Linked DNA regions of Homo sapiens: all the other regions are reported to be linked to region 5. The links are microRNA targets in miRTarBase. Many come from high-throughput screens and were not tested one by one. Region 5 holds a microRNA gene; each other region holds the end of a gene's coding sequence.
Evidence for each region. Region 5 holds the annotated microRNA hsa-let-7b-5p (UGAGGUAGUAGGUUGUGUGGUU, at 1,103-1,124, shown strand). A microRNA usually pairs through its seed, bases 2 to 8, with sites in the 3' UTR of a target mRNA and lowers its output. Matches are read on the target gene's strand: a 7mer-m8 pairs with bases 2 to 8, a 7mer-A1 pairs with bases 2 to 7 and ends in A, and an 8mer does both.

Region 1 (4,068 bases), not on the chromosome of region 5:
TAATCTCTCCACTCCACTCATGCCCACCTATTGACCTTGCAAATGACATTCCCTTTGTGCGGCACTCCCGTCCTCTTCCCTCTTTCTTAGACCTACTTCCAGCTCAGATGTCCCCCCTCTCAGGGCGCCCTCCCTGAACTTCTAGGAAGGTCAGGTACTTCCTCTGGGCTCCTCCAGTCCCCTGGACTCCCCCATCATGGCTCTCGCCACTATCTGGGGTGTCAGTGATGGGTGTTTCTCCCAACTGTGAGTCCCAGGAGGCCAGGCACAGAGGAAGCAGCTCTCCATGAATGTGTGTTGAGTGACTCAGTGACTCATTCATCCTGTCTCTGACCTCCACAGCCCACAGGAGTCTTCAGCCGCCTGGGGGCCACCCCAGAAACGGACGAGGATCTGGCTTGGGACAGCGACAATGACAGCAGCAGCTCTGTCTTGCAGTATGCCGGGGTCCTGAAGAAGCTAGGACGGGGCCCAGCCAAGGCCAGTCCCCAGCCAGCACTGACTGTCAAAGCCAAGGCCACAAGCTCAGCGACAACGGCTGCTGCCCCGACACTGCGGCGCCTGGCGCTTTCCTCACGGTCTGGGCTTGAGAGGAAGCCGGAGTCCTTGTCTAAAGTCAGCATCATCAAGAGACTGGGCGCAGCTGCCCTTGTGCCCGAGGCCCAGGACAGCCAGGTCACCAGCACCAAGAGTAAGTCCTCAGCCGAGGTCAAGGTCACCATTAAGAGGACTCTGGTGGGGCCCCGGGGGAGCAGCTCCAGCGAGGGCCTTGGTGCCCAGATGGACCACGCGGGCACTGTGAGCGTGTTCAAAAGACTGGGCCGCAGGACCTTCTAGCCCACCTGTGGGCGGGGTGCAGGCAGCAGAGCCTGCGGGCATCTGCCCTGGCCGCCCCAGGCTCCTGGCTTCATCACGCCTCCCACCAGCTCCTGGATGACACAGCTTGTCTCCCTCGGGCTCTAGAGCTAGGCCCGAGCATTCGGGGGATCACCCCATTTCTCCTAGCCTGGGATGGTCGTCGCAGCTGGCCTGGCCTGCTCCAGGACTCCCCTTCTCTCATGTCCTCTGTGCTTTCTTCTCTGGCTGTGGCCTTGGCAGAACCCACTTTTCTACCTCTCCCAAGTGCCAGGGGGCTTCTTCCTCTCCTACATTCCCCTTCTTCCCCTGAGCAGGGTCTGCTGCCTCAGACCCCAGCTCATCAGCCTCCCTGTCCCCCTCAACTAAGTGGGTGTCACCTGGTGGGCCTCCCTTCCCCCACTCCCCACTGACCTCCCTCACTCCTCTGCGCCTCCCCCCACTGCTGTGACTTCTCTCTCTCCCTGTCTTCACTTTGTTCATTTCTCTTCTGTTTTCTGTCCCCGTGGCAAGGCCCGACTGTCCGCTGCGTCCTGCCCGACCCTCCTGTACCTCCGGCCTCCCAGCGGCCCCCTCGTCGGCGGTGGCGTCGAGCCTGTTGAGACTGTTAGCCGCCCTCTACTCCCAGGCTGGAGGGACCTCTCCAGACCCTGGGCTGCGGCTGAGGCGCATCCGTTTTCCTGCCCTGGGCATCTGTCTCTGAAAGTGTATGGCGGGTGGTGGGCAAGGGGCACTGGGAAGGGAGGCCAGTGCCTAGAGTGAAGACAGCTGCTGTTTTAATATATTTTTGTGACTTTCAAATCATTTCCCCCACTCCTTCAGGGTGAGTTGCAGGACTGTTTCACACTATGCGCAGCTGGGCTGGGGATGGTGGCAGAGGATTGGGCTGTGTCTCTAAAGGTCAGGCTTCCTGCACACACATGGTCCATGTCCCTGCTGCAAGCCCTGAGTCAGGGGGAGTAATGGCCACAGTCACCATTCAGTTAGGCCGCCCCCTGCCCCCAATAAGCCGTAGTGGTTTTGTCACTCTATCCCCTCCCCCCATGGATTTCACCTGCCTGCTGGCACCTTTCCAAATGATGGGCTCCGTTTGTGAGACCATGAGTTTCCACTGGTTTGGTCGCCCACCCCTCCCTGCTGCACAGCGCCCCTGAGCCAGGCCTGTCCTAGGAGCTGGTAGCAGGTAGTGAGCAGGGCCTCTCCAGGGATGGGGTGTAGGTAAAGCGGTGGTGCTGGCCAAGGAATCTGAGGAGTGGGAGAAAGTGGCCAGGGCCGCTTCAGTGGTTGTGGATAGGAAGGCCTTGCAGAAGGGGTGACATGGAGGCCAAGTTGGGAATGTGGCTTCATGAAGTTCAGGAGGAGAGCTTTCAGACAGAGGGACAGCCAGGGGCAGAGGTGCTGAGGTGGGACAAGGAACAGGAAGAAGGCTGGTGGCTGTGGGTGAGGGTGGGCCCTGCCTCCAGCATGAGGCAGAGGTGGGTGGGCAGGGGCTAGGTGGCTGGGGGTGTTGTGATCAAGGAGGAGGAATGTGCACAGTGACCCGGGAGTGCTGGATCGGGAGGATTTGGAGCTGGGATGTGCTGAGCTGAGTTTCATTTAGGATCATCGCTCTGGCTTCTGTGAGGAGAAGGAATGGCTGGGAGGGCTGGGGTGGATGCCACTGCAGCAGTCCAGGCAGGAAGCCAGGATGGCTGCGAGGGCATGGCAGTGGGGAGCAGGGAAGAGGGCCGCTTGGGCTGCTTAGGGTGTGCTTTGGAGGAAGAGCTGTGGGATGTGCTGATGGGTTGGAAGTTGGGGCTAGAGAAGATGAGAATCATAGGGCCCGCCTAGATGTTAGACCGGAGCATCTGGGGGAACGGCTGTTAACAGAGAAGGGGAGACGGGAGGAAGGTCAAGGAAGAGGGAGCTGTGTTCTGACTGCATTGCGCCTGTTAGGGTCCCCGCTGGGGCTCAGGCGGACACCTGGGCTGGGGGTTCATGGCTGCTGACAGTGCGCAGGGTACAGCTGGAATCAAAGCCAAGGGCCTTGGCTGGGCGTGGTGGCTTACGCTTGTAATCCCAGCAGTTTGGGAGGCCAAGGCGGGTGGATCACAAGGTCAGGAGTTCGAGACCAGCCTGGCCAAGATGGTGAAACCCCGTCTCTACTAAAAATACAAAAATTAGCCGGGTGTGGTGACAGGTGCCTGTAATCCCGGCTACTTAGGAGGCTGAGGCAGGAGGATCGCTTGAACCCGGGAGGTGGAGGTTGCAGTGAGCTGAGATCGTGCCACTGCACTCCAGCCTAGGCAACAAGAGCGAGACTCCATCTCAAAAAAAAAAAAAAAAAAAGCCAAGGGCCTGGTAATACCAGCTGGAAAGGGATCATAGAGATTGGAGGGAATCTGGGGCCCTTTCCCTGTTTAGAGAACAGGAACTGACAAAAAGAGACAGCCTAGGAGAGGTCAGGGGGTTGGAGGAGAATTAATGAGAGAGCAGGTAAAGATGAGACTAGATCTCATCCGTTTATTTATTTATTTTCATTGTGTGAAAATATACCTCGTGAAATTTACAATTTTAACCATTTTATTTTATTTTTATTGTTTATTTTTTTTTTGAGTTAGAGTTTTGCTCTTGTTGCCCAGGCTGGAGGACAATGTCATGATCTTGGCTCACTGAAACCTCCACCTCCAGGGTTCCAGCTATTCTCCTGCCTCAGCCTCCCTGGTAGCTGGGATTACAGGCACCTGCCACCACTCCCAGCTAATTTTCATATTTTTAGTAGATGGGGTTTCACCACGTTGGCCAGGCTGGTCTCGAACTCCTGACCTTAGGTGATCCGCCCGCCTCAGCCTCCCAAAGTGCTGGGATTACAGGTGTGAGCCACTGCGCCTGGACCATTTTAACTATTTTAAACTGTACCATTCAGTGGCATTAAGTACTTTCACACTGTTGTGTACCCTTCGCCATCATCCATCTCCAGAACTTCTTTCATCTTCCTAAATCCATTATTTTCAGTTTTTCAGTTACGTCATATTGGGGGCTGACTGTGTGTCATGCAGTGTCCCAGGCACTGGGGATGGGGTGTGAAGGGCCGGACTTCAGGATGAGGGACAACTGTAGAGAGCAGTAATAGATGCCTTTCTCTGTGGGGGCCCAGGCTAGACCCTCCTGAGACTGGCTGAGGCCTGACCTCAAAGGACAGCAAATGCTGGCCCTCAGATTCCAGGGGCCGCC
Region 2 (4,068 bases), not on the chromosome of region 5:
TGCAATATAAATTTCCTTCCTTTACAGGTGGATGATTGTGGCTTTTCTTTGAATCATCCTAATCAGTTCTTTTGTGAGAGCCAACGTATTCTAAATGGTGGTAAAGACATAAAGAAGGAACCTATCCAACCAGAAACTCCTCAACCCAAACCAAGTGTCCAGAAAACCAAGGATGCATCATCTGCTCTGGCCTCTTTAAATTCCTCTCTGGAAATGGATATGGAAGGACTAGAAGATTACTTTAGTGAAGATTCTTAGGCAGTTTTATAACCCTTTTTCCTCAATAGCCTGTTTCCTGTTTTTAAGATTTTGCCTTTGTTGTTGAAAAAGGGTTTCACTCTGTCACCAAGGCTTAGTGCAGTGACACAATTACAGCTGATTGCAGCCTTGACCTTCCCAGCTCAAGTGATCCTCCTACCTCAGCCTCCCAAGTAGTTAGGACCACAGGTGTGCACCTCATATCCAGATAATTTTTTTCAATTTTTTTTTGTAGAGGTGGGGGGTCTCCCTATGTTGCCCAGGCAGATCTCAGACTCCTGGGCTCAAGCGATCCTCACACCTCAGCGTCCCAGAGTGCTGGGATTACGGTTGTGAGCCACTGTGCCTGGCCTTTTTTTTTTTTTTAACCTTTTTGTTTAACTTCTCTCTTCACTGCATCCCAATCCATCTACAGGCATGCACACTTATTAGGAAAGGAGGTTTGAGGTAACAACAGAGACTTTCACTATATTTTGCTTTGACAGAAGGAAAGAGGAGGAGTTTCTATTAAAATCTGTCACTTGAGTGATGTCATTTAAGTCCTATTTTAGGAGATAAAAACAGCTTTGGGGACTGGTTAAAGTCCCCCAGAAACTACAATAAAGAACAACTTTTGTTTTAACTCTTAATCACTTTGTAATTTTGACTCAATCCTTTTCTGGACCATTTTTGTTAATAAATATCAAAGTGTACATGACAGTGTCTGCGTATAATTGGGAGAGTCTTATGTCGTAACAGATTGGACATTACTTCAGTTTTAAAATGGTAATTTGGAGTATCCAACACACTGCTGATCACTAATGAAGATTTTAAACTTTTCTTTACCTTTTTTTAAGAGTTGACCTATTTGTGGTTATTCTACATCAGGCACCTTTGAGTGGCACCAGACCCTCCTGAGTGAACTGTGACTTGGGAATTAACATAAAGTATAGCCAGTTATATTTATTAAGGAATAATAGGGATATTTTATTATGTAAAATAATGGCACGTCTTATCTGCTGCCATTACTCTGGGGACAGGTTCATGAAGAATAGACAATTACCAAGCAAGAAGGTTGTACATATAAAATAAAGTGTTTATTTTACCCTCCAACTTCCATACCTTATTACTTCTGTAGTTGCTGTGAATTACCAAATAGATTTGGTAAATTAAATTAATTTACTTGAGCAATGAATAGTGATACTTATAGTAACCCCCTCCTTTCAGTGCCAGCAATAGAATTTAATAAATGTTGTGGATGATTACAAACATACGAGATCAATGCCCTGTTCTCTCTGCCTGCTTTTGTCAAGGGAGTAAGGTGAAGTTGATGATCCCTGGCACGTATGCCTTGTGGAGCAGTGCCATTGTGGATACCCTCATCTAAATAGTGATTTCCTCCTGGGGCTCTACTCACTCACCAATAGGATTTGGGGTGCTCAGGAAACCCTGTTTGAAACATAGTTCTTCCTCATCTATTACCTTGGAATATGTGAAAAGTATTCGTCTATTTCTGTCTTCTTTTCCTGGTAAAGAGGGATACTTTTATCCTTTTGAATCAGATAGTAACTAAATTGAAAAGAGCACATTGTATTCAGAAAACTAGACTGTTAGCAGCACCATATTTTTAATCATGTGATAAACTGCATCATGATGAAAAGGATTAAACAGGATCAGATCATCAGAAACTAAAAATGTCAACTAATTGAGTTTTCATTTTAGGCTTCTGAGTCAAAGATTTCTTGGAATATTTAGCAACATATAATTAAATGAGATACTATCTATCTAAACTTTTACTTGTCTTGGTGAATTATTATTACCTAGTTCAGAAAATAGTATTATTCCACTACAAATTACCCCTATAAATCTCTGCCTTCTGAAACCATCTGCTACTCCCTTCATCATTTGTCGTTCTCAACAGGAATCTGATGATTGCCTACCACTTTATCCATGGACTGCAAAACCACAAGTCCTTCTTTAAAAAAAAAAAAAAAGAACAAGTGCTACCTGGAGCTGTTTTAACCACAGAATTAAGTTAGCTTTAGAAAGCCGAGCATAGAAATGTAGGTCTTCGCTGTGTTAAAAGAAGGGAGATATTAGAAGCACTCTCGCCACTGTAGTTCAATGAGAAATTTTCTGATAGAATGTTTTGTATCTGGCAGCATTTTGCAAGGCTGTCTTTTTCTACTGCTTCATGTTCTCCTTCTTTTATGAAGCCTGTGCTCCCACCAGCTAAAAGGACAGAGTCCTTAACGGCATGGTAGATGCAGCTTACTGGACTGTTTATTTTATACTGGCAGCCCCAGGAATTTGTGTCATCTCACTTGAATGTTTTATATGTGTCTAGTTGAACTCCAAAATAACACTAGTTTAAATATTAGTTGTATTACAGGTTCAATTCAATTTATTCATAATAAGGTTTGATCTCCTGTATTATACAGAAGAATATATAAACATTCTGTGAAATCTATAGATTAGAGGATAGGGGATAGAGGTTTATAAAAGATCAAAATTAATGCTTTTCTGGTGCTTTTTGGAGTTGGAAAAAGCAATTTATTTTTCATGCTTCACAGGTCTTGACAATTTTGATTTGTTTTCTTTGAGAGCAGACCTGTTTGAATTGGGCGATGTAAAGAACCCAAAAGAAAAAATCAAAAGCCAACAGCCTCTTTTCAAAACCGTAGCCAGTGAAAAAGAAAAGAATATGAGTCTTCCAGATCTTTTAACTGTTAGTCTTTTATTATCTCTTCAAGGAAGAGAGGCTGTATGATTGTATCAAAGACAAAAGAAGAAACAGCAAAAGAAAGAAACTAGGTTGGAAATTTGTAGCTGGTTGAAGCAATGACATTGTTAGGAGAAATTCTGTCACATTTCTTTCAAGTTGTTTTTCCATAATGTTTTTCACTCTGTCCATACAGTACAAAACTTAATTGCCATGTGCATGAAAGAACACTAGGAAGGTTTTAAGTAAACTTTTTAGGACTGCTTATAATATTATAGAGTCATAAAAGTAAATAGTTATAGATTTCGAATGAGCTGGGAATGGAATAAAGCAATGGGAAAGATCTTTAATTCACATAGAATTTTAATAAGCTAAGGGATTTCTTCTGTCTCTAAAAGCATGCAGGGTGTTTTGCTTGTTACACTTTGCTGTCTTATTGATACTCAGGGTCTTTGCAAGCAAACTTTGTAATTCTTTACAAAGAAGAGAAGAAAACTTCTGGGATTTAAGCTTGAAGGGTGAAATGAGACAACTCTAAAGTTCTGTTTCAGTTAGAGTCTACTCTGCAAATTTAATCAAGGTCTTCCGCAGGCATCAGCTTGACATTAAATTTAAGTGCCCCTTAAAGTGAGAGTTTGACAGCAGTTCTGAATGTGAAGCTCAGTCTGAGGACATCTTTACAGCTGGAAGGGGAAAAAAAAAAACGTTGAGAAGCCTCAAACCACTGTGGTAATTAGATCCATTTGTTAACTTCTTTTTTAATGTTGGCAAAGGGAGGGAGAGAAAAGGTTGACAGAGGCTGGAATCAGGAAGGCAGTCCAGAGCTCCCTGTAGAAATCGGGTAAGCAGAGTCCTGTATTGCAGAGAATACTGGCAGATATTCCCTCTGACAAATGAGTGAGATGGGGAATTTATTTTATGAACTTCATTCAGTTTGTCTTCCTTTCAATACACAGAGCCATGGTGTGTGGAAGCTGCGTTTTGGATAGGTGTGCTGGTTTGGTTGTAAGGCCCTTTGGAAGACACAGAGCGTTATTTGGGAGTGGACCTCTGGTGGTACGTTGTTGGCCTGAAGAGTTAATGTTTCTCACAAGGGTATCTAACTTATA
Region 3 (4,068 bases), not on the chromosome of region 5:
AGATAAACTAGATACTGTCCTTCACAAAGATGCATGGGGAGTTAGCAAACTGAGGAAGCTGTGGATATGTTAAGCCCTTCATCTTGAGGAATATAATCTATGTTTAAAAAACCAAAGCTAGTGGCTGAGCACGGTGGCTCACACCTGTAGTCTCAGCACTTTGGGAGGCCGAGGCAGGAGGATGACCTGAGGTCAGGAGTCCAAGACCACCCTGGCCAACGTGGTGAAACCCTGTCTCTGCTAAAAACACAAAAATTAGCCGGGCGTGGTGGCGTGCACCTGTAATTCCAGTTACTCAGGGAGCTGAGACAGGAGAATCACTTGAACCCGGGAGGTGGAGGTTGCAGTGAGCTGAGACTGCGCCACTACACTCCAGCCTGGGCGACAAGAGTGAAATTCCATCTAATACAAACAAACAAAAAAAACAAAAAAACAAAACCAAAGATAGTATAGCTATATTTCTGTTTGGGAAGGTTTACCAGGCAAGGTAAACTGTCCCTGAGCAATACAAATTTGTTGTCCAGAGAATATTTTGGCTTTTAAAATATTGGCAAAGTTACACTCAGATACGAGTTTTGTTTGGTTTTTTTAAGAGTTAGCTCAATATCAGGGACATTGTAAATTAATTTTATAACAATAATCTGGTAGTATTTCTCATTGGAATTATCTACTTTAGTAATATACATGTGCCAAGAACACTAATAAGACAAAATATTTCCTAAGAGTGACAAAAAGTTGCTTTTTCTCACTAATTTTTTACTGCTGCACACATAGGTATACTGGCATTTAATTAAAGCATAAATGTTAATGCCAACTTGCTAAATGATATGCGCTGGCAATGTAATGTAACAAATGCAAATTCACATCAGTCTAACACTGTATAAACATACTCATGCATTTGTGTACTGATAGTACAGTCAAATAAAATGATTCATATTTTGACAAAAACTAAACTTGGAATGGAGGGCTCTGTGAAAGGCAGACTTGGGTCTTCAAATATCTCCGTATGTGAAATATCAGTATTTATACATAATCAGTTTTTAAAGGCACACATCCAAAAGCTCCCTTCATCTAGATCTGTCATTTTCTCTATCTAATATGCCAAAACCCACAGAATATCCCAGAGTTCTCTCAGACTTGGTGGTGGTTGCAAACTTCTAATGACTACTTATATTTGTAGAAAAACCAGTACCATTATCAGGACACTTCCTTTTGAACTTTCCTGCTTAAAAGACCTCAACAGTTGTTTTAAGCACATACTACTGCAGTAAATCATAGATTTCAAACCACCTGGCAGTAAGCAAACATGTTTAGAAAATGCCACTTTGCCTGCGGAAAAGAGACTATTGATAGAGTTCACGGCAATCTGCAGCAGTTTAGAAAAGAATGAAGAAAGTGGTCTAGTTCTCCTAATAGAGAGTAGTTTATAGTTGTAGGTCAGAAATAGGGGAAAAGACACTCTAAAACTTAGAATCAACAGGGATTTCTGCCACATCACTAAAAAGTACTTATTGATCTACATTCTTAATAATTGTTTCCATCCTGCAGGGTTTTTTCTCCCACATTTACAATTTTTTTAAGTTAAAAGGGAATATGTATTGTAAAATGAAGTATAAGGGAAAATCAGATCATTTTCTCTTCATAAAACACAGAGAATACTTAAGTAGAGTGCTCAAGCACTTATCTCGAATTGCAATTTTATTTTTCAAATACGTAAGAACCTAGAAAATCAACTCAGCACTTACTTCCTAGATACCTGTGTTAGGAAAAGTTCTACATCACCACATTTCCTCTGTACCTTTAATAATTCAAACTCAATAAAATGCTGCTTTAGGATTCCTGAAAGCAATTGTATTTGTGCAAAGCCTAAACAGGAAAACAAAGTGGATGACTTGGCATTTGAAGAATGAAAAAGCCAAACAGCACTGTCACAACCATTTCTGCCTTCAGTCTCCAATGCCTTTTTCTTTCATTATAAAATCCATAGAAATGGCAAGGAAAGATATAGGAAAGTTTATCACAGATACAGTAGCTATTACAGAAATTTGGAATTCAGCAGATGTTTTAAGTCAAAATTTTCTGTGTAACAGATGAATTTGCAAAGTTTTGAAAACACAGTCCACAAAGTAATTTAAAATGTGATAATTAAATTTGTTTTAAAAAGCAAATTAACACCTTTTATTTTCTGTGAAGATAAAACAATAAAAGAAAAATGTTCATATATCCAAACCTATGCTGGAAGTACACAAAAAGACAATTTGTATACATTACTGGCAATAGTCTTGTTTTGTACAGGATATTTTACAGAATATCCATTGTTAAAAAAAAAAAAAAAAAAAAAAAAAAACATAGCCGGGCGTGGTGGCTCACACCTGTAATCCCAGCACTTTGGGAGGCTGAGGTGGACGGATCACGAGGTCAAGAGATCAAGACCATCCTGGCCAACATGGTGAAACCCCATCTCTACTAAAAATGCAAAAATTAGCTGGGCATGGTGGCACACGCCCATAGTCGCAGCTACTCAGAAGGCTGAGGCAGGAGAATAGCTTGAACCCGGGAAGCAGAGGTTGCAGTGAGCTGAGATTATGCCACTGCACTCCAGCCTGGCTACAGAGCGAGACTCCATCTCAAAAAATAAAAAATAAAAACAAAAATAAAACATACATGACTCTTGATGGTACATTTCTATGCTGGCAAATACATTTTTGGATACAAAGGCACTTTGAAAACCCAATATGGTTTGGTTCATAAGTTTGCAAGGTACAAACAATTTAACAAACATGATTATACTGAAGAACGTCAACAATTATGACATTACGTATAGCACAGATTTCCAATTTCTTTCTTTTTTTAAAAAAAAGTAATACTGGTTTTGTGGGAATGAAAGCAGTGATTTCCAGCAGCTGCAGTGAAGACATTCCAGAAGACTGGAGGCCCACAACTGAAATTCTTACTGGCTGGGATGAGAGGATGGTGGTGTGGGCATTCAACATGAAAACAAACAAACAGAAAACAAAAACAAAAAAAGAAAGACAAAAGGACAAATTAACATCCTAAGCTAAAAACCTCAGAAGTCAAAAAGATTTGGAGGAAAGAGCACAAAAGAAAAGACCAAAAGTCCAGGAGATATCCTCTTAAATCTGATCCCTTAGCTGTGAACTCCCCACAAAGCATGAACGGCTGACTCTACCCCGTCTACTTAGTGCTCGGGAGTTGTAGTGATAATTTCTCTCTTTTAAAAAGCTGGGTACAATGTTTTGGATCGTACAGTACCAGAAAAATTTGGTCCATAAAAGGTGCATAATTTCTTTCCATTCACTACATGGCTGCAAAGTCAATCTGTACGTAGAGCTGTCTCACTCCAGCCTGAAAAGTAAGAAAAAAAAAAGTTAGAAAATCTAACAAGCTAATAACACCCTACACATTTCAGGAAAGTATTTTTTTTCTTTTACAAATCTCACTTTTTTAAAAAAAGAAAAGAATCATTTCAGAAACAAATATATTCATAAGCTACAAAAAATAATCTCCATTTACCACTACAAAAAAACAAACAAAAAAAAAAGAGCCATGTTAACAGTCACACACCCTATCCAGATATCCAGGTGATACTTAGAAAAATGCAGTTCACCTTCTACAGTTACTCTGTTAGAGGACACCATGATGCTTGACTGGTTGGCTCCTAGTTGAAATTGATACATCAACCCTGTCTAAATCCTCCTGTGATAAATGATTAGTAAACAATTTAGCAAGTATAACCATCTATTGGAATTATTTTGCACTCCAAGTTCTCTCTTCTGTTTTGGATATGAACTTGCTACTCAAGGATACTGCTCTCTAAATTCTCCCCAATATCTTCTGTATTATCAATTTACTTCCTCTCAACTAGATCACTTCTATTAGCATACAAACACACTGTAGCTGTTTCTATCTTTGAAAAAACCTCATGAGAAATTATCTTTTGGGTACAATGTACACTATTCAGGTGATAGTTGCACTAAAAGCCCAAACTTCACTACTACGCAATATATCCTAGTAACAAAACTGCACTTGTACCCCCTAAAGCTATTT
Region 4 (4,068 bases), not on the chromosome of region 5:
ACCTGTAATTCCAGCACCTTGGGAGGCCGAGGTGGGCGGATCACCTCAGGTCGGGAGTTAGAGACCAGCCTGATCAACATGGAGAAACCTCGTCTCTACTAAAAATACAAAATTAGCCGGACGTGGTGACGCATGCCTGTAGCCCCAGCTACCCAGGAGGCTGAGGTTGCGGTGAGCCGAGATCGCGCCATTGCACTCCAGCCTGGGCAGCAAGAGCAAAACTCCGTCTCAAAAACAAAACAAAACAAAAAACACCAGCATTATTTTCTCCAGAACCTCCTGTACATTACCAATATTTTAATTTCAACAACGATCTCAGATTGCATACTAAAAGGTAAAAGTGCAATTCAGTAATCTTTTCCAAAAATGTTTTATTGCTACAGGTTGAAATTTTTCAACCATCAAAATTAGAACAAAATTTAAGTTTCTGCTCACTATGGTGTAACACAGCCATTTCGTGGGACTTTGTTTTTAATGTAGGTTGGCAGTAGAGTTCAGCAAAGTTTAGATGATAGCAGAATGGTATCATGAAACTTTGTTTATAACTTAAAGAAGTGGGGCATTAGCTAGAATAGAAAGACCGCCTTCTATTTGAAAGGTCAGTCTTTCTTTGAAATCTCAAAGATTCATTTCAAAATTTAAGGCTTTAATTATCTGACACAAGTATATACCTATCTTGCAACAAAGTCCAATATTTTACATTACAGCTTTTCCCAAATACTATACATGGTAACTGAAATATTCTTAGAAATCATACAAGACTTCCCTGAACTTACCACAACCTACCTGAATCTGGACCACACTTTTTTTGATCTCTTCATAAAGTCACAGCTTTCATTTCACAGCTCTAATAGCAATACACCATGGAGTACAAACAACACTGTGAAAAACAAGGGCCTGATAAAGCCCACAGCAAAGCTATTCACTAATATTGGCATTACCTTTAGCCATGCTATTAGAGATCACACTTTATTTTTGTGCATAATAAATACGATACAGAAAAATGTTGAAAATATATGACTCAACTATCTAATTAAAGCTGAGTAAACTAACCTAGTCAGATTTTAGTTTTTCAACGAGAAATGACAAGAGTAGCTGAATATAAAGAAAAACAAAAAGAACTTTACTTTCCTATGTTAATACAGGTCAAGAGACCCTTTCTTCTCAAAAGGGTTGGTAACACCAGTTCTTAGCAATAAACATAAGGCACTTGTTTAGATTACAACATCACTCCATTTTTTCCACTTGTTTTTCTAACCCTGTTTTTCCCCCACAGTATCATTTGAAATTAATAGGATGAATGAGGCAAATATGAGACGATCCAGTTGATACTACTCAGAGCAAGATAGTACAGTACAGTGTTTCAGGGGTGATGTCTGGACATAAAATGAACCCAGTCAAGGTCCTCTGACACCAATGTATCCACTATCAAGTAAACCTGAAAGAAAATAAAAGATTTATTCAATAGTTCCAGTAAAATTGGGTTGGAATACAATACACATTAGGAATTTAGCTCCTCACGGGTGGCATCTGCATCTTAAGAGTTCTGAGTACTTATGAATATTCATTCTAAGACAATCTACATCATTTGAACATTGTCAAGACAAATAAATGAATTTCATTTCAATATACAGTAGAGTTTAAACAAAATTCACACATACACCCCCTATTATATGGCTGGTACCTCCTCCAAACACCTCATTAGTGGCAGAGGTAGGACTAGTGTTCTTTCCCAACAATAAGAACTTCAGTTGCCACTCATAGGAGTTGAAAAAAAGTTTTTGTTTTTTTGCCATCTGTTAAGATGTTCCTGAGACAGGGCCAGTTAATAAAACATAACAAAGCACTGGAGTTCGGTTTGTACTTCTCTTTACATCACTACTAAACTGTTAGACTGAGATGTGGAATGCAGGTCATGTACTATGAAAAGTTGATTGTAGCACAACTGTTCAATCAGTAAAAGGTCTTCGGCAAATTCCCTTTAGAGTATACTTTCTATAAACTACATGTTCCACAAAAAGGTCAATTATATATACAATTGATTTGTTTTACTTAATCTTATTTGCTCAGATCTTGCAAATGCAATGAGAATATTAAGCCTGAGGCTAGTTCTCAGTGTATAGGTTTAACAAATTAAGGCTCATTTTCCCAAATCAAAATAGTTTTTAGTTTTCCTTTTAAATTATGAATTACATTCATAGTACCTGCCACCAGCCTTGCCCTCAATGAAATCTTAATGCAGGAGCAGCATTCTACTTCATTATGGAATTTCCCTGACACCAGCACTTAGCCCCTTCTAAAAAGCTCCCATCTGCACTAGCCTTACAGCATATTACATTGCCTCTGGCTTGCACCTCTGTTTCCACCTGTGTATTTCACAGAAGCCCAACACAGATTAGTTGAAATATTCACACAACTGTTTTTCAAAACAATTTATTGCATCATATTTGGTACCTTATGTTTGACAACAAAAAGGAAATTACATCTGTAACTGCAAGAAAAAGAAGCTGGTCTGTTATTTGAAAAAAAAAAAAAAAAAAAAAATCTTGGGCCCTTTAAAAATTACAAAGTCTTGGGCTTGCCTGAAACAACTGAGCAAGAAATATATTCTTAGAAATGTAGGGCTTCAAGTATTACAAACCTGTGACACTGTGGAAAAATTCCAGAGGTATCTAAACTGCAGCACTTTTTTTTCTGCATATCGTGAACAAGGCCTGCTGAGGTTTTTAACTATTAGTCTTTTGATCAGTCATAGAATGGTAGTCAGGAGTTCTGCTCTTTAACTTCAAGCCATGGTAGATTTTCCTTTTTTCACTCTTGGGTGAAAAATTCATGCTTGCTAATTAGTTGGTGCCACATCACAGTGCATTTGGTTCTTGCATTACAGTTTTAACAAGTTTGGCCAAACAATGCTGAAAGGTTTGCATTGTTGTTTTAGTTCTTCAAGTTTTAGTTAAAATTGAGACTGTTACAACTGGTTCCTTCAGTTAAAAACTGTGGTACAAGAACACCAAACTGATCATGTACAGTGAATTTTGGAAACACAAGCGTATTGAACACCTTATAGGTTTCTTATAATTTTGCTTGGTATCTATATGTCCCAGTTTCTACAACATCAAGCATCTGTTGTAGGTTTCTCTGTAAATAGTGATTCACATTGCATACTTCCTATGGTCAGAATCAACCCCGTAACAAAATCAGTCAGATGCTAAAGCCCCAACAACTCTTTGTGCTCAGTGAAAGAATCCAGTGCTAAAACAGCATTTATGCTGTCTGAGATATAGTAAAATCTCACAAGACAAATTTAAAGTAATATTTCTGCCACACACCTGCTTTGTTAGCTGTAACAGCCTCCAGATTTTATATAAATTAGTTTAAAAACATGGGTGGGTGGGGAGGAATAGGATAAGGTATCTTTTTTAACCACTCAATTTTAGCAGCTTTAATTTTTTAAGAAACTGAACCTCTATCCTGTAATGTTAGATATTTTATATATACTTTTTCAGCAGGATAAAAAACGTAAAACACTATTTGAAGGCAAGAACATTTACTCCTCTCATTCTGTGTAAGTTAGAGCAATGCAGCAGGTGCGTGACAAAAATATTATATACTAGATATGGTCCAAAGTCATTCCATTTGCTTGTTTAGTGATGTTCAAATTTCATTGGCCAGTTCTTCAGCTTCTGCAGAACTATCTCCATTAACTGTGATCTTCATATCCTCTTCATATCCAGGAGGCATGAAAGCCAAAGCATAAGGGAAAAGCTTATGACAATTTGCTCTATAAATTTCAGCAGCTTCTTTACAGTCTCCTAGGCTACCATCATACAAGGCTTCCAATACCTCCATACATGTCTAAGGAAAGAAAAAAAGTCATGTTGTAACTGGTCAAAAAAAGGTTCTTACTGGGAATTTATTAGACATTTCAACAGCAAGAGATTTCTAAAATAAGAAATAAATACACATATTTAGCTATTTACTCCTGCATATGCATTCTATTAGAATGTTCTTCAAGGCCTAATTTAACCATTTCTCCAGAATTGCAGGATTTATACAAAAGGCTAAACA
Region 5 (4,059 bases):
CGCCCACCGCGCCTGCCCGCCAGAATCCCTGTGCCCTTGGTGCGTGTGGCCTGCCGAGCCTCGAGCCCCTGTTCTCCTCAGCCCTCTTTCCTCCCGCGTCCCCAGGAGGTGCCTCTGGAAGCCACGGAGTCCCATCGGCACCAAGACCGACTGCCCTTTGGGGTGAGGTAGTAGGTTGTATAGTTTGGGGCTCTGCCCTGCTATGGGATAACTATACAATCTACTGTCTTTCCTGAAGTGGCTGTAATATCTGCGGTGGACAGAGCGTCTGGAACCCTGGCTGGGAGCGGGCAGGGCCAGGTTTGGGGGCAGCCTTGGCAGCAGTCGGGGGCAGGGGCCGCCTACACTGAGAAGTCTGACAGGCCTAGGTGCCACTTGCTGTGTGACCTTGGACAGGCCCCTGATCTCTCTGGGTCTCAGTTTCCTCCTCTGTAAAATGGAGGCAAATGAGGATGGAAGGAGATGCAGTGTGGAGCATCGAGGGCAGAGGAGAGCTGAGCCGACCCCACCCTCTGCCCCAGCCGCACTGAGAGAGGCGATCCACGCAGCTGTTTGTCTGACCTCTGTCTCCCAACACTCCCCAACACTCCCCCCGCCATCAGGCCCAGGCTCATGGGTGGCCCTGAGCCGTACCCTCCACTGAGCACCAGGAGAAGGCACCGTGGGGCCAGGGGTGGCCGAGACGTTTGGAGGTCACAGGGCTGCGAGTATTGGCGTTGCCCATCACCCCAGGTTCCCAGCACGTGCCCCAGCCTGGCCAGCTCAGTGGCAGGGCCTCTGCCTGTGGAGGAAGGGAGGCCAAGGCACCTTTCCTGAGCAGGAAGTGAGAGGAACAGCTCTGCATACACTGGGTCCCACATGGCACAATCTGAAGGCAGACAGTGGCTCCTCTGTACCTGGGGAAACTGAGGCCCAGAGAGCCAGGGACTTCCCAAGACCAGCCAGCAGCAGCTGCCCCTTCCTGGGGTGCCATCTCCCCTGTCCCTCCTGCCCTGCGCCTGCCCAGCCCTCCTGCTCTGGTGACTGAGGACCGCCAGGCAGGGGCTGGTGCTGGGCGGGGGGCGGCGGGCCCTCCCGCAGTGCAAGGCCGGGCCTGGCGGGGTGAGGTAGTAGGTTGTGTGGTTTCAGGGCAGTGATGTTGCCCCTCGGAAGATAACTATACAACCTACTGCCTTCCCTGAGGAGCCCAGTGACACGACCCCATGGGAGGGCCGCCCCCTACCTCAGTGACACGACCCCACGGGAGGGCTGCCCCCCACCTCAGTGACCTGCAGGGGGCCTGAGCCGAAGCTGGGTGGGCATCTGGGAGCTAGATTCAATAAAGCTGTTCTGACCATGAACTTGGAACTGGCCCCTTTCATTCTGGAAGCCCAGGGACTGGGCTCTGGGGCGCGTCTGCTGCGGGACAGTGTGGAGGCCCCTGGCCACGAGCTGTTCCAGGTCATGAGACTTGTCTGCTCACGCCTCCCGGTGCCTCCAGAGTCCTCAGTTGGCTCCGTGCTGTACCCTGGGCTCAGGATCCCAGGCCCAGCCCGTTCTCTGCCCTCTCGTGCTGCCTTTGAGCCAGGCGGGCTGAACACCGGGACCCAGGCCCGGTGGAGAGGTCCCCACGGGGCAGCCACCAAGGCCCCAGGTCAGCAGCTCAGAGCACTGCCAAGTCCTGGCTCCTGAGGCCACCTCCGTGCCTTAAGTGCCTTGACCAAAGTCTGGACGTGCCTGTCCTTCCGTCCTCCCTCAGGACAGTTTCCAGGGCACCCGTAATTCCTCTGACAGACTGCCATCCCAAAAGTGCACCCATTCTCCTGGGAGGCCTCAGGCCCTCGTCTAGCAGCTGCCGTAGGCTGGGCCCAGTGATCCCGCCCTGGGCATGTGGGGTGGGCTTGTTCATGCCTGGCCCAGCACCGAGAGCCCCTGGTGGGGAGGGGCTGATACAGCTGGGCCCACACCTCCCCCACCCAAGTGCCCATCCTCGCCCCTCCTGTTGACCCAGGCCACAATCTTGGCCCAGATTCCCCCCTGTGCCCTCCTGGCCTGCCTTGGTTCTGCAGGCAACCCCAGCCCTGCATGGCCACGTCTGGGCAGACCGGCACCCCTACCCTGACACCCATCTGTGCCAGTCCTGCACGGCAAACACCTCAGAGCCCAGGCCTGCCTACCCTCCCGGAGCTGCTGCCACCCTGTGGGCCAAGGGCAAAGGGACGTGGAGGAGGGGCCCAAGGGCAGGGAGGGCTTCCTAAAGCAGGGACCATCTGAGCTGGGTCTTGACAGCTGCGTAGGAGTTTGCAGCTGGAGATGAGTGACGTGCCCCATGGTCCCTTCTCCCATCATCCTCTGGGGCCAGAGTGGGTGACACATGGGCACTGTCCAAATCCCCTTCTTCACCCCATAATTAGTCAGCAGCCACATCTGGCCACTTCTGTCCTCTAAACACCATTTCCATCCCTCCCCACTCCCACTGCCAGGCCTCAGAGTCTCAGAGCAGCCCCCTCTGTCTCCGGAGCAGATCTCTGCTGACACCCTTGCCTGCACTGCCTCCCAGCACCCCTCCCTCATGCCTGTGCTCACCTCCACCAGGACTCTCCTGCTCACCACCGCTCCCCCACCCCTCAGTCCACGGCTCAGACCCATCTCTGGCCACCGCAGCCCCTGTCTGTGTCTGAACAGACTGTGAACGTCCCGAGGAGCCAGCCTCTCCTCCCAGCCCCCATACTGTGTAGTTGGAGCAGGGTTTGGCCCTGCAGAGCTCAAGGCCTGGTCGGGGAGCTGCCAGGGACACACAGTGGCCATGTGTTGGGGTCAACATCACAGTGGAGCAGCCCAAGGGCTGGGGAACCCTAAGGATCCCTGGACCCAGCCCTGCAGTCAGAGGCAGCTTCCTGGAGGAGGTGATGCCTGGCTCACCCCACTTCCCTCCCTACCCTCCAGCTGACCAAAACCTTCCCTGCTGACTGGCCGTCCCTAGAGATGGGGTTGCCAAAACTCGCCCAAAATATAGGATGAGGGCAGCCTGTGGAAGTTCTGGGGGTGACAGGCCTAGATTGGTCACTCTGCTCACCAAACCTGTTTCCCATCTCGCAGTGGGGTCACCGTAGCTTCCACCTCCCAGGGCGCCCATGAGGATTTAAGCTGATACCAGATCAGAGTGCCCAGGGATGTGGATGAGTTGCCTTGAGAACAAAGTCCAGGGAGGAAAGCCGGGGACCAAGGACCTTCAGGATGGCCCCAGCTTCCCGGGCTGTGCGGGAGCCACGTGCCACGGACCCCTCCCAGCTCAGGCAGTACCGCCAGAGCACAGCCTTACCCTACAGAAGAAAGGTCGGCGTGGCCCTGTCCTCCGAGGAGATGAGGGCTCAGAGAGACTCGAGGGGGCTCCTGGGCTGTCCAGAGTGGGCCCTTTGAGAGACCCCTGGGCCCTAAGGTTCAAGTAGGCCACCGCTGACCTTGGCCTTCCTAGGAGGGATGCAAAGCCAGCCCACCACTTGAACCCGGCAGCCTGAGCACCGAGGGACAGGGCCGCCATCCAGGGCCAGGGCTAGGACAAGGCCAGCAAGGTGGCAGACACGGAGCATCTCGGCCGGGGGGCCTTTCTTGGGTCACACATCAGCACGGGGCACAGAGGTGAGAGCCCAGAAAGAGTCTTGTTTCCATTTCTTTTAAAACGGGAAGGGAAAATGACCCCTCCAATACTGAATATATAATGTATAATGAGTATATTATAGACTGGTGTAGATGATGGGGTGAATATAGCGCGAACCCAGCCTGGGTTCTGGGTGTCTTACCACCCCAGTCATGGGTGCGGTTTGTGATTTTGTTGTGAATTGTGGAGGAAGGGCCCAGGAGGGCCACATGCCCTGCCAGGGAAGCCATAGAGAGCCCTGCCCCGGGAGGTCAGTGCCTCCTTCAATGCCTGCGATCCCTCACCCTGCCCTGCTTCCCCCACCATCCGCCCCGCCTGGGCAGCCTGGGCCACTGCCCGCCAGCCACCCCCGCCTTCGGACTGTGCATTTCCCGACAGCGACACCGTGTGGCAGCAGCCCCCACCTCCGAGGCCAGCCCCGC
Region 6 (4,068 bases), not on the chromosome of region 5:
AGGCTATCTCAGGTAGTCGGGCAGGGTTGCTCATAAAAGCAGCTCATAGAGACACCATGGTTTGTACTCATTGGACTGGAAAGAGGCCTATAGCGTTCGTTAGGAGACAATGCTAGTTTCTTTGATATTTTACCCAGAAATGCAGCCTGAATTTCATCTTGTTTTGGAACCTCTTATAGAGGTCAAAGCAGGAACTAGTACATTTTGAAATGTGCATTGCTGTGTTCATAGTCTACCATAACCAATTGCTGATGTACGCTTTATGTTTTTAAGATATATTACCAAAGAAGATTTTAGCTAGTAAATACCTGAAAATGCTTAAAGAGGAAAAGAGGGAAGAAGATGAGGAGAATGACAATGATAATGAAAGTGACCATGATGAAGCTGACTCCTAAACCAAAAGTGCTTTAAAAACCAGCCTGGCGAGGACAGCCCTGGACCCACTCCACTGTCTCTAAGTAAACACAGCACTGCCCGCTTTTAGCGTCTTCACTTCTTCACAGAGTTCCAGTGTGTGGTATTCTTTCGAGGTATTCTTTCCAGGCCGAGATTGAGCACCTCATGTACCTACGCCACAGACAGCCAGAGGGAAAGCGACCCAGACAGCAGCCCCTCCTCGACAGGCCCACCCTGCAGCTCAGGCACCAAGAAAACAGCCGATACTGGCAGCCATTGCAGCTCCAAACTGCAGAGGCAAGGCCAATTTTAACTTTTCAATTTACAGTCGATTTTGAAGAGCTTCTACATATCGGTTATGTAAATTCATATATGTATATTTTGGAATCAGTTCTTATAAACAGCTCGATTCAGTTTTAGCTAAATTTATAGTTTAGGTAGTATGTTACATTTGAATTTTTGTCTTAAGAAAAGTTGACTGTTCAGATATTTTTCTACTGTAAAGAAATATACTTTTCTATTAAAGATCTGTACATATTTTTACAGTAAAATGCTTTATGGAACTAGTTTTAGAGCCCTCTATGGCTTTAAGGCCTTGCTTACTGCCTGCAAATTTTGAGAAATTTAAAAATAAGCATTCTAACACTTTTATTCCCACAGAAAAATTCCAAGTCAAATTATCAAATCAAATACAAAAATAAGTCTTACCTCTTGTATAAGCATGTTGTACTAAAAAAAAATTTTGAAACATTTTGTATATTGGAGATCTCTCTCATCTTACTGTTCTTTGCTTTAAATTCCTGGCACTTCTTTTTACTGTCTATAAGAGAAAACCTATCATAAGCCCAATTTTTTTTTTCCACTTAGGGTAAATGTTTGGCTCCTCTCATTTCATTATCTTTTTTTTTTTTTTTTTAAAGACAGATTCTCACTCAGTTGCCCAGGCTGGATTGCGGTGGCGCTGTCTCAGCTCACTGCAACCTCCGCCTCCCAGGTTCAAGTGATTCTCCTGCCTCATCCTCCTGAGTAGCTGGGATTACAGGCGTGTGCCACCATGCCCAACCTATTTTTGTATTTTTTAGTAGAGACGGGGTTCACCATGTTGGCCAGGCTTGTCTCAAACTCCTAACCTCAACTGATCCACCTGCCTCAGCCTCCCAAAGTGCCGCCGGGATTACAGGCGTGAGCCACCATGCCTGGCCTTCATTATCTCTTTTTTAAAAATGAAAAAGTTTATAATTTACATTCAGTAAAATCACCCTTTTTAGTGTCTAGTCTGTGAATTTTGACAAATGCATGGTTTTGTAACCAATCGATAGGACAGTTCTGCCACCCAGGACATTCCCCTCTGTTCCTCTGTTCCTCTCTTCTCCTGCCCCCTAGCAACCACTGGTGTTTTCTGTCCCTCTTGTTCATTGACATTTATTTTAAAATAAAATATTTTAAAATCTACTTTTTGGTGTACAGTTCTGAGTTTTGGCAAATGCAGTCAAGTCACTACCACCACCACAATTAACAGCTATATCACCCTCCAGTAAATTCCCTGTGGTCAGCTCCTTCCCCACCTTTTACCGTGGCAACCGTCAAGCTATTCTCTGTCCCTATACCAGGTGTCATCAAATTTTTTTCTGGAAAGGGCCATGCAGTAAATAGTTCAAGCTTTGTGGGCTTTTATAGTCTCTGTTGCTGCTGCTGAACTCAGCTGTTGTAGCACGAAAGCAGCCAGGTAATTACTAGATGAAGGAATGCAGGTGGCTGTGTTTCAATAGAGCTTTATTTCTGCAAACTGAAACTTGAGTTTTGTGTAATTTTCATGTGTCATGAAATACTGTTTTCTCCAACCATTTAATAATGTAAATACTTGCTAGCTTATGTGCCATTAAAAAATGACTTGATTTGGCTTACAGACCAGTTTGGTGGCCTGTCTTTTCCAGAATGTCATATAAATGGAATCATTCAGTATGTAGCATTTGAGTCTGCAGTTGTTCTGTTTAGCAGAATGCATTTGAGATTCATCCGTGTTGTCACAGGTATCAGCAGTCCATTCCTTTATATTGCTGAGTAGGATTCCATTGTATGGATGTATCTGTTTATCCATTTTCCAGGTATATGGATAATTACCCATTTAGATTGTTTCTAGTTTTGATGATTGTAATTTTTTTTTTTTTTTTTTTTGACAGGGTCTCACTCTGTCACCCAGGCTGGAGTGCAGTGGCATGATCATGGCTTACTGCAACTTCCGCCTCCTGGGTTCAAGCGATTCTTGGGTCTCAGCCTCCTGAGTAGCTGGGATTACGGGCACGGCGTCACCACACTTGGCTCATTTTTTTGTACTTTTAGTAGAGATGGGGTTTCACCATGTTGGCCAGGCTGGTCTCGAACTCCCGACATCAAATGATCCGCCCACCTCGGCCTCCCAGTGATGGGATTATAGGCATAAGCCACCACACCTGGCCTTGATGACTATAATTAATAAAGCCCTATAAGTATTTGTGTACAGGGTTTTTGTTTGTGTTTTTTGAGATGGAGTCTCGCAAACTCTGCTGCCCAGGGCGGTGTGCAGTGGCGCAGTCTTGGCTCACTGCAACTTCTCCTATCTAGGTTCAAGCCATCCTCCTGCCTCAGCCTCCTGAGTAGCTAGGATTACAGGCGCCCACCACCACACCTGGCAAATTTTTGTATTTTTAGTGGAGATGGATTTTTGCCATGTTGGCCAGGCTGGTTTCGAACTCCTGAGCTCAACCAAGTGACCCGCCCACCTCAGCCTCCCAAAGCGCTGGGATTACAGGTGTGAGCCACTGTGCATGGCCTGTGTACAGGTTTTGTGTGAACACGGGATTTCATTTTACTTGGGTATATGCTTATGAGTGGAATGCGATACAGACGTTTATAAGAAGAAACTGCCAAACTGTTTTCCAAAGTGGCTGTGCCATTTTGCAGTCCCACCAGTAGTGAGTTCCAGTGGCTCTGCAGCTCCTACAAAAATTCATGTCAGTTTTTGTTGAGTTTTGAGAGATTTATATATTCTTAATACAAGTTATTTGCCTGATAGGAGATTTGCAAACATTTTCTCCCAGTCACTTTTCATTCTCTTAATAGCATCTTTTTTTTTTTTTTTCGAGACTGAGTCTTGCTCTGTCACCCAGGCTGGAGTGCAATGGCACGATCTCGGCTCACTGCAACCTCCACCTCCCAGGTTCAAGTGATTCTCCTGCCTCAGCCTCTCGAGTAGCTGGGATTACAGGTGTGTGCCACCATGCCCGGCTAATTTTTGTATTCTTAGTAGAGATGGGGTTTTACCTTGCTGGCCAGGCTCGTCTTGAACTCCTGACCTCAAGTGATCCACCCACCTCGGCCTCTGAAAGTGCTGGGATTACAGGCATGAATCACTGCACCCAGCCTGAAGCATTCTTAAGGCACCATAAGTGTTTGAGATCCGATCATTCAGGGAACACTCACCCTTTCAGTTCCTCCTTGAACCGGGTGCCAGGTTGTTACAGTAGCTTCCTAAGTGGTTTCCTCACAGTGCCTACAGCCTTTCCTCTTTCCACCTTGCATACTGCTGTCAGATTATCAAAATGATTTTATGAAGATGAATCTTTTGCTCTCGCTTGCAAGTGTTAAACCATTACTGCTTCTGGCCATTCAGTAAATGATGGTGAAATAGCGAGA
Region 7 (4,068 bases), not on the chromosome of region 5:
AGGTAGGAACAGCTTTGGAAAATAACACACAGTCATGAAAACATACAAAAAGTTAGGTAAAATGTTGCAGCACTAAAGATATTTTATCTGCATCTGTATTTAATGAGATGATAACTGCATTTAACTGGCCCACATCTGGCCCAAAGGACAGGCAACAGAAGACACAAAACAACACAACATATAAGTTTCATAATCACAGAATATACTGATACACTTCATTGTGCTGTTTCAAGGCAGAACCATAACATGGCAATTTGTGTCTTTTTATATATATATATAACCACATATTAATTGTATGTTACATTCCCTCCAGCATCTTTTTGCCAAAGACACTGGACCATAAAATTTTTGGTTTAAAAGTTTAAATTGAATAACATACAAAAGGCTCTTGTGCCAGTGAAAATGACTGCTAAATATTCCAGAGCTTGTTAGTAAAACAAAATAGCATTACCACATAGTATCGGTAGAGCTACATCAAAATAGTGCTATTATAATCCCAATTTCAGAGACGTGAAACACTGTATGACACAGTTTCAATTTTAAAAATGACAAACAAAAAACCCCTACACCTTCCCAAGAGTTTTAACACTGTTTATGACTTAACTGAAACTCAGTATTAAAATAAATATTTTTATATTGTAGAATTACTCTCCATATTTGTGTGAACATCTTAAGACAGCAGGTTAATGACATTTTTATCATTCAAATGATATCTGCTTATACACAGTAAAAATCTTCAACTCAACACCAGTTAACATACGAAATACTTCACATTAGGTTCCATAGGTCTTTTCCCTCAAAACTGTCAAAAATTCAAAATTAACTTAAGGATGTTAATAAGACACAAACGGTTAACACAGCCTTCTACCTACTGTGATTTTCCAAGGTGCATTTGATGGACATTTTTCCTATTCAAGTTACATACCTTAGTTATTCAACATACTGTTCTCTAAAATGTTAAAACACATACAGCAAAGTTTTTGAGGATTCTGTTTTTTAGGTTTTAGTCCATAGTTTTACAATGCAGACATCCTTCAGAAAAAACTAAGCAATCATAAAAGCTAAAAGGTGACAATGGAGAATTAAATCTCTCATCACTAAGGCTGCATTTGGCTTGGAAAAATTTCTTGGTTTTAATTCAGGCACATGCAGCACCTCCTTTTCACTAAACTGAGACAACAGACAAGTTTCTAAACACATATTCTACACTGATCTTGCTCAAATATAAAAGAGCCAGCAGGAGAGATGCAACTCCTAAAACTGATGCAGTGTTATAAAATAGCATATTTAAATATTGGGTTTAAGTCTCCTAATAATTCAGAGTATTTCCCTCATTTTCTTTCAGAAAGGAATAAGCTATTTTGAGAAAGACACTTAAATCCTACAATATTTAAATACAAAAGCATGTCTTTTTTAAAAGATAATGCTAATATAGCTACAATGGGTTAGAAAGTGCATTGTAAAGAAATAAATAATTCTCTGCTAAAACTCAAAAGGTGAGTCAGTGCCCACTGTTTCTGCCGACAGTCATTTGAAAAAAGAAAATCCTATGGTACCACCATTATATATAAGCTACTTAAAAATTATGAAAAGTGAAATAACTCAAACCTAAAGGCTGTTATCTTCAAAGCACTTTTGAAAAACAAACAAACATAGCCCTTGTCCTATGCTTATATACCATTTTTTAAAATCCTCATTCAGTTGATGTCTTGTACTTAGGTGTCATGCCATCTTTAAGACACAGACCTCAAGTAGAGCATTTGTAAAGAAAACCTCATTGAATGTAATATATTTTATCAGTTATCTTTGTATCATTGCTGAAATGTTTATGTAACAAATTGATATCTGAATAAAATGTTCTGTAAAGTATTAAATCAGGAATGTACATGATACAGTACAATTCACAGCTTTCTCTTCTTGTTCGCCCAGATGAGATCCCTCAATTTCATGTTTAAAAAAAACCACCCAAACCTTTTCGCAAAATTCAAGGTAACTATCAGTTTAGGAATTGAATTACACAATATCAGATAAGAATATTAAAAGATCAAGATGTATTGCAAACTGGCAGGTTATGGTTTTGGCCCATTATAGTAAATGTGAACTTACAAACTGTGTTCCTAAAATTACCATATTTTCACTGGAAAAAATCAGCTGTTCTTAAATAGGCCCATCGCCAGCAATAGGCTTATACTAGGAAAAACACACACCACAAAAGATCATCCCTTTAAAAAGTAACTGTCAAATCCTAACACTTTTTCCTCTTACAACCCATTAAACAATGAACTATTTTAAATCCCAAAACGTAGCCATCCCAAAAGTAGTCAGCTATAAAAGTAGTCAGAATACCTTGTTTCTAGAAAAATAGAGCTATACATAACTGATGCTAATATTAATCCTTTCAAGGACAAAAATCTAATTTTGTCACAAAGCATACCCTCTATCAAGAAAAATATAACTTAAACACCCTTAAATATTTGTGTTGGATTTGAAATCTATAGCAATAATGAAATAGCCACAATTTTCTGTGTAGATATTGTGGCATCTTGCAAAATAAGCCACTATTGGAAGATCTGAGTATGTGAAGACAGGATGACTTACAAAATCTTAATTAATTTTGCTTTAATTATTAATTTTGCTAAGAATTTAATATCCAAACTGCATTAACCTTCTGGTTTTCTTTCCTCTCAAGTCAGTGACTCTTAGAAAGCACAAACATTGCTGGTTGTGCTCAAAAAGCTCCATTTAAATCCATTCATGATTGGTTATCATGAAATGACCTTGAAAATTTTTTTTCAAACGCCCGGTTTAAAAGATTACATTAATCGTTTGCGTTTAGCATGTAATTATTAGGTGTCAACATCCTTAAAAATACTTATATATTTTGTAAATAAACTTGCAGCTCAATGTTTTTATACCAATCTTTCAAAGAAAGTAATGCTGGTGAACATGTCCAAGTTTCAGATTAACTTTGGTAGAATAAAAAGTTGAAATTCTCAAAATAATTTAGAAATGTAGTCTCAATATTATCATACAATAACCTAAATATTTAGTTTGGTAAACTTTCTTCCTTGCTCTTACTACCCCATTTGCCCCATTGTGTGTAAACTGTAGTTCAATTTGTTAATTATCTTACTGTTTAATAGCCAGCAATACAGAATACAGGATAGTAACTGATCTTATTTCCTACTAATAGCCATGAGTCACTCTTAAAATATGCTGCCATTATGCTATGTAATGATCTCAAAGGGCAATATCACCTAAAATGTCAAAGGAAACAAACTGTTGATGATTTTAAAGTTCTATCAATTATAATTCTAATAAAGTATAACACTGGGGGAAAAGAAAAGCAGAGAAATTCCAGTAACAATTTTATTTATCCCCCTAATTTTTATCATGGGAAAAATCCAGAAATCAAATGTCATTATGTTATATAAGGTTTAACTTACTTTAAACAAAAATGTAACATAGTGTTAAAACTGGCTTTCCAAAACAGTCACAGCATAGCTGTACTCTGTACTAATAATCACAAAATTGTAATATAGAACTCTGTTATGCAGTCCCATTATGTTCTTACAAAAATAGAATTAAACTGTGTGACCAGACAAGGACTTCAATTACACTACTTGGCAAACTTAGAATTTCAGTGGAGTCTTTTTCCTCTTGCAGTTTAAAGCAAAAGTCAAATATCACATCTTTTTCAAGACTCACAAAGATGATTCAGGTTGTTTGTTTGGCATGTTTTTAATCTCTATCACAACAGCAGGGATGTTTTCAGCTTTAGTCCTCCTGGGCTTCTTCTCTAGATTGTTACTAAGTTCTAAACAAGAAATGCTAACTGCTGGGGTCTTTTCTGCATCCTTTCCAGAAGGGGCTTGTGGTAGTGTCCCACAACATTGCTTCAAAGCACACTGGGTTCTGCAGGCAAGTTCACACGGAACTACACTTGATTTAGAGCCTACACTAGCAAATTCAGGCTGAATGGTAGTAGCGTGAATTCCGTGATTATGAAAAACGTCTTTAATGGTTTTAGCCACCTCCATGTATGATGTTGGATCTTCACATTTTATG

Region 1: miRTarBase lists C19orf47 as a target of hsa-let-7b-5p. Seed matches in the 3' UTR shown: 7mer-m8 at 1,110-1,116.
Region 2: the mRNA of PRIM2 is a reported target of hsa-let-7b-5p. Seed matches in the 3' UTR shown: 8mer at 415-422.
Region 3: miRTarBase lists SLC30A7 as a target of hsa-let-7b-5p. The part of its 3' UTR that is shown has no 7-base or 8-base seed match.
Region 4: miRTarBase lists NAA15 as a target of hsa-let-7b-5p. Seed matches in the 3' UTR shown: 7mer-m8 at 1,711-1,717.
Region 6: miRTarBase lists CHRAC1 as a target of hsa-let-7b-5p. The part of its 3' UTR that is shown has no 7-base or 8-base seed match.
Region 7: the mRNA of SLC30A1 is a reported target of hsa-let-7b-5p. The part of its 3' UTR that is shown has no 7-base or 8-base seed match.

The regions. Positions count from the first base shown.
Region 1 is chr19:40,318,651-40,322,718 of GRCh38, reverse strand. It overlaps C19orf47 (chromosome 19 open reading frame 47), which reads left to right. Exons shown (of 9, transcript NM_001256441.2): 9 at 343-3,183. The coding sequence ends at 837. Among named protein-coding and RNA genes, the nearest start is that of C19orf47, 28 kb to the left of the region's middle.
Region 2 is chr6:57,645,901-57,649,968 of GRCh38, forward strand. It overlaps PRIM2 (DNA primase subunit 2), which reads left to right. Exons shown (of 14, transcript NM_000947.5): 14 at 28-950. The coding sequence ends at 258. Among named protein-coding and RNA genes, the nearest start is that of TRI-AAT1-1, 150 kb to the right of the region's middle.
Region 3 is chr1:100,974,108-100,978,175 of GRCh38, reverse strand. SLC30A7 (solute carrier family 30 member 7) reads right to left here. Exons shown (of 11, transcript NM_133496.5): 11 at 1-3,366. The coding sequence ends at 3,319. Among named protein-coding and RNA genes, the nearest start is that of DPH5, 50 kb to the left of the region's middle.
Region 4 is chr4:139,387,671-139,391,738 of GRCh38, reverse strand. It overlaps NAA15 (N-alpha-acetyltransferase 15, NatA auxiliary subunit), which reads right to left. Exons shown (of 20, transcript NM_057175.5): 20 at 355-3,855. The coding sequence ends at 3,655. Among named protein-coding and RNA genes, the nearest start is that of RAB33B-AS1, 64 kb to the left of the region's middle.
Region 5 is chr22:46,112,589-46,116,647 of GRCh38, forward strand. MIRLET7B (microRNA let-7b) reads left to right here and starts at 1,098; the gene lies at 1,098-1,180. It overlaps LOC124905135 (collagen alpha-1(III) chain-like), which reads left to right. Exons shown (of 2, transcript XM_047441696.1): 2 at 1-1,340. It overlaps MIRLET7BHG (MIRLET7B host gene), which reads left to right. Exons shown (of 5, transcript NR_110479.1): 5 at 1-1,340. MIRLET7A3 (microRNA let-7a-3) reads left to right here and starts at 161; the gene lies at 161-234. It also overlaps MIR4763.
Region 6 is chr8:140,514,853-140,518,920 of GRCh38, forward strand. It overlaps CHRAC1 (chromatin accessibility complex subunit 1), which reads left to right. Exons shown (of 3, transcript NM_017444.6): 3 at 274-2,302. The coding sequence ends at 395. Among named protein-coding and RNA genes, the nearest start is that of CHRAC1, 5.6 kb to the left of the region's middle.
Region 7 is chr1:211,571,684-211,575,751 of GRCh38, forward strand. It overlaps SLC30A1 (solute carrier family 30 member 1), which reads right to left. Exons shown (of 2, transcript NM_021194.3): 2 at 1-4,068. The coding sequence ends at 3,705. Among named protein-coding and RNA genes, the nearest start is that of SLC30A1, 5.4 kb to the right of the region's middle.